Regions from separate parts of the Homo sapiens genome. Here all the other regions are linked to region 3. The links come from fine-mapping of genetic effects on gene expression. A gene starts in region 3. Each other region holds a variant in brackets. All regions are shown on one strand. Distances are from middle to middle.

Region 1 (4,128 bases), 37 kb after region 3:
TCAGGCTGCTGGTCTGGAACTCCTGACCTCAAGTGATCCTCCTGCCTTGGCCTCCCAAAGGCGTGAGCCACCTGCCCAGCCTACTTCTTCTCAATCAGCGTATTTCTTATTTCCTACCAATGGTCTTTGCCCTGGCTAGAACTTGTAGTGAATGTTGTATAGCAGTGACGGGAATAGACACCCTTGGCTTGCCTGCCGTCCTATGGAGAACACCTGCTTCACCATCAAACATGATGGAAGCTGCTTTCCAGGCAAGTTCTATTTCTAGGAAACTTCCTCTCATTTGTTGAGAGGTTGAGAATTTTATGATTGAGGGTTAAATTTTGTCATTCTTTTTGCAGCCAATCATATTTTTTCTCCTATATTCTATTCTAGATCATGAACTTTAAATGTTAAAACAATTTTACATTCCCAGGAAAGGGCCCACTTGATAGTGATTGGGCTTGATTGATAGTGACAGTAATATATTAAGGCCCACCCGATATATGATTCGATTGTGTTTGCTGAAACTTTGATAATAATTTTTGTGTCTGTGTTCATGAAAGATAATGGCCTATAGTGTTTTTGTAATATCTTTGGCTGCTCTTGTTGGAATACTGGCTTTGTAAAATGAAATGGGAGTGTTTACTATGATCTGCATTTTTTTTTTATTTCTTTCTTTGGTAGAATTCACCAGCAAAGATACCTGGAAATGGAGTTTCTTTGTGAGGTTTTTAGGTACAAATTCAATTTATTTAATAGATACAGGACTATTTGAGTCATCTATTTCTTTGCATGAACTTCAGTAGCTTGTGTCCATTTGTTGTTGAATGTATTGGCATTAAGTTGTTCAAAATATTTTTAATCACTCTTTTTAAAAAAGGGAGATTTGCCCAGGCTGGCCTGAAGCTCCTGGCCTCAAGCAGTCTCCAGCCTCAGCCTCCCAAAGTGCTGGGATTGCAGTTGTGAGCCACCCAGCCTTCTCAGTCTTTTAATGTCCCTGGGATCACTTATGCTCTTGGTATTTGGCTTATCAATTTTATGGATGTTTTCAAAGAACCAGCTTTAGGTTTCAGTGTTTTTTCTCTATTGTTTTACTGTTTTTCGTTTCATTAATTATCACTTTTATCTTTTTTCTTCTGCTGCTTGTTTTATGTTTAATTTGCTCTCTTTTTAAATTCTTAACTGGAAGATTACAATGCCAAGTTGAGATGATGATTCTCTAATGTAAGCTTGACTGCTAGAAAACCTCCCCCAGCTCCATTTAGATGCGTCCCACATATGAAAATATATGTGTGTATATATGTGTGTGTGTATGTGTGTATATGGGTGTGTGTATTTGTGTGTGTATATGTATATTTGTATATATGTATATGTATGTCTGTGTATTTGTGTATCTGTATACATGTATGTGTGTTTGTGTATGTGTGTATGTGTATGTGTGTATGTGTGTGCATATGTATTCTGTGTGTTTGTGTATATGTGTGTATGCGTGTATGTGTATGTGTGTACATGTGTATATGTGTGCATGTGTAGTGTGTATGTGTATTTGTGTGTATGTGTGTATATGTATGTGTGTATGTATGTGTGTATATGTGTATATTTGTGTGTATATGTATGTGTGTATATGTGTATCTGTGTGTATATGTGTATATGTGTGTATATGTGTGTATATTTGTGTGTATATGTTATCTGTGTGTGTATATTTGTGTATATGTGTGTGTATCTGTGTGTATATTTGTGTGTATATGTGTGTGTATCTGTGTGTATATTTGTGTGTGTATATGTGTGTGTATATTTGTGTATGTGTGTGTATAGGTGTGTATAGGTGTGTGTGTATGTGTGTGTATATGTGTGTGTGTGTATATATTTGTCTATCCTGACTGCATACTCCATGCTTGTTCTACACATTTTGACAGGTGTCTTGAGTTGCCTTTTTTTTGTCTTTTAAACATTTTTTTAAACTTATTTTTTATTTTTTGTAATACTGTTTCTCTGGCCTCTTCCTTGTAAGTAGTGTTTTGATTTTCATTCAGT[T/TA]AAAAAAAATGTTTTCTAATTTCCCTAGTGGTTTTTTCTTTAACCAATGGATTATTTAGAAGTCTGCTATTTTCCAAATGCTTGTGAATTTCCCAAATATTTTTCTTCTAGTTTAACTCCAGTGTGGTCAGAAAACATACTTCATATGATTTCAATTTTTTTTTTTTTTTTTTTTTTTTTTTTTTTTGAGACAGGATCTCACTCTTATTGCCCAGGCTGGAGTGCAGTGGTGCAATCACGGCTCACTGCAGCCTTGACTTCCTGGGCTCGAGTGATCCTCCCACCTCAGCTTCCAAAGTAGCTGGGACCACAGGCGCGCACCACCATGCCCAGCTAATTGTTTGTATTTTTAGCAGAGACGGTTTTTCGTCATGTTATCCAGGCTGGTCTCAAACTCCTGGGCTCCGGCGATCCACCTGTCTTGGCCTCCCGAGGTGCTAGGATTATAGCCACACACCACCATGCCCAGCCAATTTCAGTCCTCTTACACTCACATTTATTGAGGCGAGTTTTATGATCTGAAATACTGTCTATCATGATGAATGTTCTGTGTGTACTTACAAAGAAAGAATGCGTGTGCTGTGGTTGGGTGGGAAGTGGTTGACATGTTTTATGATATAATTGTCAATTAGGTTGATATTATTCTGCTCTTCTATAATATGACAGTTTTGTCAATTACTGAGATAGCTAGGAGTGTTGAAATCACTAAATACAGTTGTAGATTTGTCTATTTTTCTGTTTCTATTTTTGCTTTGTTTACTTTAAAGCTCATTTTTTAGGTACATACCCATTCAGGCTGGCTATGTTTCCTTAATGAACTCTTTCCTCATTATTAAATATTTCTTGTTCTGAAGCCTATGCAATGTGATGTAAATGTAGCCTCTAGTTTTTTTTTTTGTTAGTGTTTTCATGCTTTTTTTTTAAATATGTAAACCAGGTTTTTAAAAATCCTGTGATACAGAAGCACTTAAACCACCCCCAACCCACACACACATTTTGTAGACAGATATAGTTGGATCCTGCTTTTTCTATCTTATCTGATGATCTTTGCTTTTTAATTGGTCATGTTTAGACTATTTATGTTTTACATAATAATTGATATAAATTATTGGCATTAAATCTACTGTCTTGCTATTTGTATTCTACTTATCCCATCTCCTCTGTGTCTAAATCCCAAACATGGCAGGATAAGAGGGGTAAAGAATGTTTTATAGTTCCGTTTCCCCACACTTGACTCATTAGTTAGTTATACTTGTTTTATTTATTTATTTTGTATTGATTGCTCTAGGGCATCAGTTCACACAGTGCATTCCAGGGTCTGTGAGATCTTTTCAGGGTGTTTGTAAAGTGACACTTCCTTTTGTGATCGTACTAATGTTTGCTTTTTTCATTCTCATCCTCTCATGAGCGTAGAGTGGAGTAACGTGTGCAGTGGGATTTGCCAGAGGCTATGTAACGTGATTTTATAGATGACATGCAGGGCAGAGAATCAAGCTCTTTCATGAAGTCAGACATTACAGAGATTTCAAAAAATGGAAAGCAGTGCCATTCTCTTCAGTGTCGGCTCGAGTACTATTTTTTGGCCTGACATGGTGTTTCACACTTAAGATCCCATCACTTTGGGAGGCAGAGGCAGAAGGATCATTTGAGCCTAGGAGTTCGAGACCAGGCTGGGCAACAGAGCAAGAGCTCATCTCTAAAGAAAAATAAAAATAGATCGGGCGTGATGGCTCACACCTGTAATCCCAGCTCTTTTGGGAGCTGAGGCGGGCGGATGACTTGAGGTCAGGAGTTCGAGACCAGCCTGGCCAACATGGTGAAATCCCATCTCTACTAAAATACAAAAATTAGCCAGGTGTGGTGGCACACACCTGTAATTCCAGCTACTTGGGAGGCTGAGGCAGGAGAATCGCTTGAACCTGGGAGGCAGAAGTTGCAGTGAGCCAAGACTGCGCCACTGCACTCCAGCCTGGGTGACAGAGTGAGACTCCATCTCAAAATAAATAAATCAATAAATAATAAAAAAAATTACTTTTCATAAAAATATTTTTATATTATGTATGTTTACTAGTAATGGATTTTTAATGTTTTTATTAACTGATGTTAATAAAA
Region 2 (4,128 bases), 31 kb after region 3:
GGCCAGCAGCGGCCTGTGCCAATCCGTGGCGGCCTCCTGTGCCAGGAGCTGTGGGAGCTGCTAGGGTGGTGCTGGCATCCTGAGTCCTGGCCCTCCTGGGATCTGGGGCCCTCGGGCCCTGCCTGACCTGGTGCTTTTTTCCCCATCCCCATGTTCCTTTTATTCTGTAAAAAGTTAGTGGACTGCAGCCCTGGGGGTTGCAGGCTGCGGTGCCTCAGGCCCCTCCTTCAGCCTGTGGCCACCTCTGGGGCACAATGGGGGCTCCCCACTGCCCAGTCTGCCCCTCGGGTTGGGGGAGTATCCCAGGCCTCTCTGTGGGACCTGGGCCCCTGACGGGCCTTCTCAGCCCGTTTTGAGGACAGACAGTCCCCCGAGGTAGGCTACATCCCCCCACCCCAGCTGGTCTGCTTGGATTTCCTACAGCCCCCGTGGGCATGGACCACCTTTATTTTATACAAAATTAAAAACAAGTTTTTACAAAAGATCAAGTCACTTTTTCGGTGGAGAGCACAGAGGGGCCAGCCAAGTGCCCCCAACGCGGACTGTCCTGAGAGGCTCCTGACCCCTTGGAGTGAACGATCTGCTCAGGTGCCCTGTGCTTCCGCAGTCCCAGCCCCACCGCCTTACCCGCCGGCTCCAGCTCTGCCCTGCCCAGAACGCTGCGTCATGACAGTGTACGCGCGCATGCGTGTTGTGGGAATTGCACGGGAGATGGAAGGCTTCAGGGACACAGCTTTCTGATGACCGGGGCTGCTTGGTGAGCACATTGAGTTCCCATCACCAGAGGAACACAGCAAAAATGGGAGGCCGCCCATGGGGTGGGGGGGGCACAGGGTCAAGGCAGGCGGACTGACATCCAAGGCCTTTGTTTGGGAAGTTGGGGAGATGGGTGCCATTAAGAGGGCAAAAAAAGCGGGGCACAGGGACTCACACCTATAATTCCAGCACTTAGGGAGGCTGAGGCGGGCGGATCACTTGAGGCCAGGAGTTCGAGACCAGCCTGGCCATGGCGAAATCCCGTCTCTAGTAAAAATACAAAAAAAAATTAGCCAGGCGTGGTGGCGTGTGCCTGTAATTCCAGCTACTCAGGAGGCCGAGGCACAAGAATTGCTTCAATCTGGGAGGCGGAGGTTGCAGTGAGCCGAGATCGCGCCACTGCACTCCAGCCTGGGCGACAGAGCAAGACTGTGTCTCAAAAAACAAAGGGCAAAAACAAGCAAGCCATTGTAACACCTCCCCTCCCCTCCCCTCCCCTCCCCTCCCTACAACATCCAGCCCAAGGCAGCTGCCAATTTCTTTTCTATCTCTATAGATTTGCTTCTCCTGGAAACTTCATTCAAATGGAATTATACAGTGTGTGGTCTTTTTTCTCTGGCTTCTTGTACTTAGAATGACATGTCCAAGGTTTGTCCACATTGTAATGTGTTAGAATTTCATTCCTTTTTAAGGCTGAATCATCCGTTGTAAGGATAGACCAATTTTATTCAACTGTTCATCAGTGGATGGGTGTTTGGGCTGTTTCCACCTCGTGGCTGTTACAGATATGCTGCCGTGGAAAATTCATGTACGAGTTTTTGTGTGGACATATTCTTTCTCTTGGCTATTTGAGGTTTTAAACTAGACTTGTATGCCTTTGAAAATATTTGAATTAAAAATTAGAGGCTGGGCACAGTGGCTCATGTCTGTAATCTGAGAGCTTTAGGAGGCCAAGGAGGAGGGATTGCTTGAGGTCAGGAGTTTGAGACCAGCCT[G/T]GGTGACATAGCAAGACCCCAGTCTCTACAAAATATAAATATAAAAATCTAAATGAATAAACATTAGAAATGTACTGAAATGTTAATGGTAGTTAGGTGATATTATAAAATTCTCTAACTTGAACATGTTACCATTAACATCAGAAAAATAAGATAAAAAATAATGCTCTATTGCGTTTTCATAACACCAGCTTAAACAGTCCTACCATTTTAAGAAAGCAGAACCATGAACTATGCTTATAGGCATTTGCTGACATTTTCCTGTTATGTTTTAAAGCTAATTATGTTAATGGTACACTCCACCTTGAAAATGTCACCAGCGTTCAGTGAATCTAAAATTTGGTCTTGGGTCTCGTATGCTAGGGCGAGTAAGAGGCTATGCTCTGTGTAAAAAAACAATTTAAAAACGAAGTAATATTCTTCAGAAATAAAAACAAGTTGATTAAGACTAGAATAGAGCCACAGCCTTGGCAGAAGAGGGTGGCAAAGGGAGCCACAGACGTGAGTCGGCTAAGGTTTTGTTTTATAAACCAAATAACAATATCCAATAATAATCCCTTGTTAGTGTTAGCAATTAAGATGTCTGCTTCTAGAATATTACACCAGAGTGAGTTTCCTTGGATTTGCCTCCATATAACCAGAAAAATCCAACATCTTATTTAGCTGCAACATGATTTTGTAATCATACAAACATTTTGGTATAAAAAACAAACATTATCCTAAAATAGAGATGCTGAGAACTTCCATTTGGGGAAGGGGTCCAGAATGAAAAAATCCAATCCCTTAAAGAAAGGATTCGAGAATACGTACCTGGTGTTCTTGATTTCTCCCCTGGTTCTCGATTGCTCGAAAGAGCTCCTCACACACAGTTGGAATAATACCCTGTTTGCACCAAACCCAATCATGGAATAGCTTTTCCCAGAGCCAGTTTGGCCATAGGCTAGGAGAGTTGCATTATAGCCTTGCCAAGCACTGTCCAGAATTCCCCTGCCAAGGTCATGGAAGACGTCTCTCTGGAAAGATGACAGGTGGCATATTCAGCACAGGCCAGTGGCATGCAGATTTCCTCTTCCCTACTTTCTGAGTCCTCTTAAATCTGAATAAGTATCCTGACTTTCATAAATCCCACCTCGATTCATAGCGTATGACCTGCTTGAAATACAACTCAGATGCCGGCTTAGAACAGGTGGAGTGAAACTGAAAGGATTTGTCAATTTGGAAAACACTCATCATTTACATTCATGGATCACATCGGGTACATCCTAAACTAGCTAATCCCTGTTGGTCATGAAATTGCATAGTTCATAGCCTTGCCAAAACACGGGCCAGGTCTTTAAAATTAAGCAATTAGACAAAAATATCAAGGCACAGAAGCCAGTCAAAGCATTTTCTACTACTTTATTCGTTGACTCAAACAATAACATCACAATATAGCCACACTGATTTTAGTCCTCTGCTAGTGAGCTCTTCTCTTTTTCTGCTTTTTCCAGTGGTTCTGGAACACACACACACACACACACACACACACACACACACACGTGCATCCCCCTTTTTTAAGTTAAAATAGAAATGTTTGTGCCCACTGTTGCTGAAAGAGAGGGGATGTGGTCTGCCTCCTTTTATCATCTGGGCTGTGACCATAGACCGCAATAGTTATCTTATTTGAGGCTGTTTCAAAGTGTATATTTCTTCCTACTCTCTAATAGCAATGGTAAAGCACTAAGCATTATTCCATTTGTTACGATATATACATTTGTATAATTTATTTCATGTTTCTGGGGAAAATGCACATACCAACATAGTGTGATTTACATGAGGACAATAGACAATAACCAACGTTCATGTAATATTTGAGAAAGGGATAAAAATTATTCCACCAAAAGGGTTAGGGGAGCTCTAGACTTTAAAATGTGGAGTCTCACCAGTGGTTTCCCAGAACACTGTGACTGTACTTTTACCAGAAGAAATATATTAGTGTAACAGATGTTGACTCTACTGTAGAAGCTGTGTGCTAAACCTAACACATGCCTACCAAGTAAAAGTAACTAGTTTTGCTGTTTTGTTTTCTCAGTGCTATTGGAGATTTCGGAAAACATTTTGTGTGTGTGCTTAATTTTTATGGATTGAAAACTTTAAACAAGTAATATGGGCCAGGCGCGGTGGCTCATGCCTGTAATCCCAGCACTTTGGCAGGCCAAGGTGGTGGATCACCTGAGGTCAGGAGTTCGAAACCAGACTGGCCAGCATGGTGAAACCCCCATCTCTACTAAAATACAAAAAATTAGCCAGGTGTGGTGGCAGGTGCCTGTAATCTCTGCTACTCAGGAGGCCGAGGCAGGAGAATCACTTGGACCTGGGAGGCGGAGGTTGCAGTGAG
Region 3 (4,128 bases):
GCCAGGCTGGTCTCGAACTCCTGACCTCAGGTGATCTGCCCACCTCGGCCTCCAAAAGTGCTGGAATTACAGGCGTACAGGCATGAGCCACCATGCCAAGCCCTTTTTCTTTTTTTTTTAGACAGCTGTCTTGCTCTGTCGTCCAGGCTAGCGTTCAGTGGCATGATCTCTGCTCATTGCAGCCTCCACCTCCCAGACTCAAGCAATCCTCCCATCTCAGCCTGCTGAGTACCTGGGACTACGGGTGCAAGCCACCATGCCTGGCTAATTTTTAAAATATTTTGTAGAGATGAGGTCTCACTTTGTTTCCCAGGCTGGTCTTGAACTCCCAGGTTCAAGCGATCCTCCTGCCTTGGCCTCTCAAAGTGCTAGGATTACAGGCATGAGACACCACGCCCAGCCGCCATGAATAAATGTGTATGCTTATTTGTTCATTCATTTGTTCAGCTGTTCATCAAATATCTACATTTTAAAATTACAAGCATGTAATTTAAAAACAAACAAGGGAAAATGACACTGCCTGGCTTCTCCTTACGTGGTTGCTTATCTCGACCCATGAATCCTGGCCGCAGGCAGGAGGTCCTCTGCCCCCAGTTCCCATTCTTGGTCTCAGGGTCCTTGACCCAAGGTGGCTCCAGACTGGAGGAGGGTGGGGCGAGGTGAAACATGGCTGGCTAGACGGAAGGCCTGGAGGTATCCTCAAGCTGCTGCTGGCACAGCAAGTGACCTGTGCTTCTCTTATACTTGGGGTGGCTTGAAGGAGGGGCTCGTGGAGATTATGGGAGGATCAATCTCCCTCCCAAACCCAGGCTGGTACTGCCTCTAATCAGGAAATCTCAACTCTTAGAGACCCCTGGCCTGTGGGTGCACACAGTGCCCTTGGCCCTGAGGTCTGACCCCAAACTGCTCACACAGCTGCTGCCTTGTTGGGGACCCAAGTCTTCCCTAGGGTCCGAGCCAGGGTCTGGGGCTGGTTCAGCTTCATGGCGCCACCAGGGCCACAGGGGCAGTGGCACGGTCAACCTCTGAGGACAGGTCAATGAACAGATGGCTTTTCCGGGCCTGGTATGACAGAGTCTTACTGGTTCGTTGTTTTGTTTTGTTTTGTTTTGTTTTGAAATGGAGTCTCGCTCTGTCACCCAGGCTGGAGTGCTGTGGCACGATCTCAGCTCACTGCAACCTCCTCCTCCCAGGTTCAGGCAATTCTCCTGCCTCAGCCTCCTGAGTAGCTGGGACTACAGGTGTGTGCCATCACATCCGGCTACTTTTTTGTATTTTTAGTAGAGACGGGGTTTCACTGTGTTAGCCAGGATGGTCTCGATCTCCTGACCTCGTGATCTGCCCGCCTCGGCCTCTCAAAGGGCTGGGATTACAGGCGTGAGCCACCGCGCCCGGCCTTGTTCATTTTTAAAAGTCGAAAACTTCAGCAGAAGAAGAGCAAGGAGGTGAATTTCTAATCGATTTATTTTGCTGAAATTCTGAGAGAAACACTGTGGTGTGGGGACAGGGAGGAGCTCTTGCACACACACAGGTGGATCTGCCCACTTTCCACCAGCGGTTTCATTACTGCGAGTTCAGGCAGAGTCCCGGTGCCGAGCAAAGCGTGGGGCCCCTCCGGGAAGCCCGCAGGTCACTCAGATCGCAGCGGGCTCCGGCCTGGCCAGGATTCTGGGGGAGCCGCCCGGAGCGCGGTGAATCGGGGCGGGGAGAGGGGCGGGGAAGGCGCGCGAAAGCCCCAGCAGAGACCGGCAGCGGCGGGCGGCCCGCGTGGGCTACTGCTGGGGGCTGCGTTCGGGCGAGGAGGGGAGATTCTGTCTCAGAGGCCTCGGGCTGCACGTTCTTCCGGGCCGCGCATTTGCAGCCCACAGCAGGCCCCAGCCGGCCCCTCTGGAGTTGGGCCACTGCTTCTGCAGGCCCAGCAGGCCCCTGGGGGCGGCCGGAGGCCACTAACTGGCTTCTCCAGCTCAGCATTCTTCTCTCATTTGCTGGGTACCCCACTCTCTTCTCTACCCCTTTGAACCATCTTTACCCTCATTCCTCAGGGAACGTTTAACGAGTTGAATGTTTACCATGTAGTCACTCTATATGGAAATCATAATTCAATTTTGTAAACATCAGACTTTGACAAAACAAATGATGATGTTCTTAAGGAAAGCAGAGAGACACAGTGTGAAATCGCTGCTCTCAGATCAGCACACGGGAGAGGCCAGCAGTCAGGAGGGGGCTCACCGAGTTTGTCTGCACTCGCTCCCTCCGCAGCCGCCCTCTCCAGCTGGAAGAAGTCGTAATCGAACCTGCTCAGGTCCTCACTGCCCCACTCCGAAGGAAACCCCACGTACAGGTAGGTGCTGTTGGATCCCAAAATCAGGCGGTCCTGGGGAGGAGACGGTGGGCTCAGGAGGGGTTCGAGGCCAAGGAGGGTGAGGTGAACCTCCCCAGTGAGAAGGATCTGAGGAATGTCCTCCCCTCAGGAATCCCCCAGACAGGGAGAGACGCAGACAGGAGGGAGGTGGCCTCTGGCTCCTGCGTTCACCTTCATTGCACACATTGAGGGCGTGACTCCCTTGGCCCTGGGGTTCTGTGGGGACCACCCAGAGCCAGGCCCTCCCTCCACGCTTTCCAGGCTGGTCTGGGTGAGTGCAGCAATGGCTGCAGGGGACACCAGGACCTAACTCAGACTACAGGCTACAGACGGCCTTTTCCGAGGCGTGATGCCCAAGCTAAGCCCTCCTGGGCGGTAAGTCTTGGTGAGGCAGAGACGGCTGCTGAACAACCAAAAGAAGGGCAGTGTGGCCAGGGACAGGAGGCCGAGGGAGGTCACTGAGGGGGCTTTCCAAATGGGGAGCGGCCAATCCCCATCTGCCTGTCCTGTCTGAAAGGCTGTGGCCACCAGGGAGGGGAGAGGGCTGCTGGGAAGCTGGCAGGGGCCCCAGGGTTGGCAGATTGGGGAGGAAGAGGCAGCGATGTTTGCAAGATGCTGTTCAACCCCTCTCAGTGACAGGCTCTTAGAAAAATCTAAAATGGCACAAAATGTTAGAGCTGGAAGGGACCTTGGAGAACACCTAGTTCAGCCCTCCTTGTTTTCCAGGTGAGGTCAGAGGAGTGAAGTGACTTGCCCAAGACCACACAGTGAGTCAGGAGCAGGCCTGTCCCTCCAGCAGTGGTGCCATGTTGTCCCCAAGCCATGGTGGCAGAGGAGCTGGTGTGAACGCCCCATCCTGCCACGTCTGTGATGTGGGCACCTCACATGACTGTCCCCTCCCAGCTCTTGGGGGGGACCTAGGACATTCTGTGAGCCTGCAGGAAAGTTTACCAAATGCTGCAGCTTTGTCCTGGTGGTGATGGGCACCCCGTTAACGGCAACCTTGCATTTGCTATGTGGAGTGACCGTCACTTTACCGTCGGCATTTGTGAAGGAAGCGTGTTTATCTGAAATTCTAAGAAGATGAGAGTCAAAGACACCCAGCAAACGGCGGTTTCCGTGAGCAGGTAGGCTGACCTTTCTCATGTGCACAGGAGGGAAGGTCTACAGCTGCGGAGGATGGCAGGTGGCATCTCGGGGCCTCCTGTGTGCTGTGGCCCATGATGCATGGGGACAGCAGCGGGCGCAGAAGGACCCTGCCCTTGGGGAGCACGGGGAGCTGGGAGACAGCAGGCAAGGGCTTCATTAACAGAACGAACACCAGCTGAGGGCCTAGCACTGCGGGGAGCCGGCCAAGGCCACACTGGAGTCCTCCCGCTCCCAGGCCAGCGGGATGGGGTGGTGGGAAGATGGCAGCAAGCAAGCTTCAGAAGAGACGCTCAGGAGGCGACTCTTAACGAGCCTCACCTACTCCGGGTACGTTTTGATCTGTTTCTGCGCCCTCGCCGTATAAATTCAGACCTTATAGGATTTGGGGCTGGACGTCGGGGTGTCAGGTTGGCATCCCCTCTCCCCGCCCTGCTCCCCTGCACCGATGTCATCTGTGTGTCCTGAATGACTGGCTCCCTGCCTTAGCATGTTCCATGTTCCTGCACTCCTTGGCCATCATGGAATGTTCTGGATGTGGAGACCCGTGTGCATCCAAACCCTTTTTTGCATGGGGCCCAGGGATCCTGTGGGAAAGGTTGCGGCCTCATCACTGGAGT

Alleles and levels. Alleles are on the strand shown, and positions count from the first base shown. SD is a standard deviation of normalised expression in the study named. Not every link is listed here.
With allele G in place of T in region 2, the expression in spleen of the gene that starts at base 2,260 in region 3 is higher (moderate effect, 0.59 SD a copy in GTEx).

Evidence for each region. PIP is the estimated chance that this variant, and not a neighbour inherited with it, causes the effect.
Region 1: its variant is the best candidate, but not a certain one, in a credible set for the expression of LINC01341 in subcutaneous fat (FUSION, PIP 0.58).
Region 2: its variant is the best candidate, but not a certain one, in a credible set for the expression of LINC01341 in spleen (GTEx, PIP 0.87).

The regions. Positions count from the first base shown.
Region 1 is chr1:246,824,227-246,828,354 of GRCh38, forward strand. No RefSeq gene overlaps it. Among named protein-coding and RNA genes, the nearest start is that of LINC01341, 37 kb to the left of the region's middle. The variant T/TA (reference allele first, on the strand shown) is at 2,017.
Region 2 is chr1:246,818,117-246,822,244 of GRCh38, forward strand. No RefSeq gene overlaps it. Among named protein-coding and RNA genes, the nearest start is that of LINC01341, 31 kb to the left of the region's middle. The variant G/T (reference allele first, on the strand shown) is at 1,752.
Region 3 is chr1:246,787,358-246,791,485 of GRCh38, forward strand. It overlaps LINC01341 (long intergenic non-protein coding RNA 1341), which reads left to right and starts at 2,260. Exons shown (of 2, transcript NR_015422.1): 1 at 2,260-2,341; 2 at 3,089-4,128. RefSeq lists a silencer at 1,501-1,580.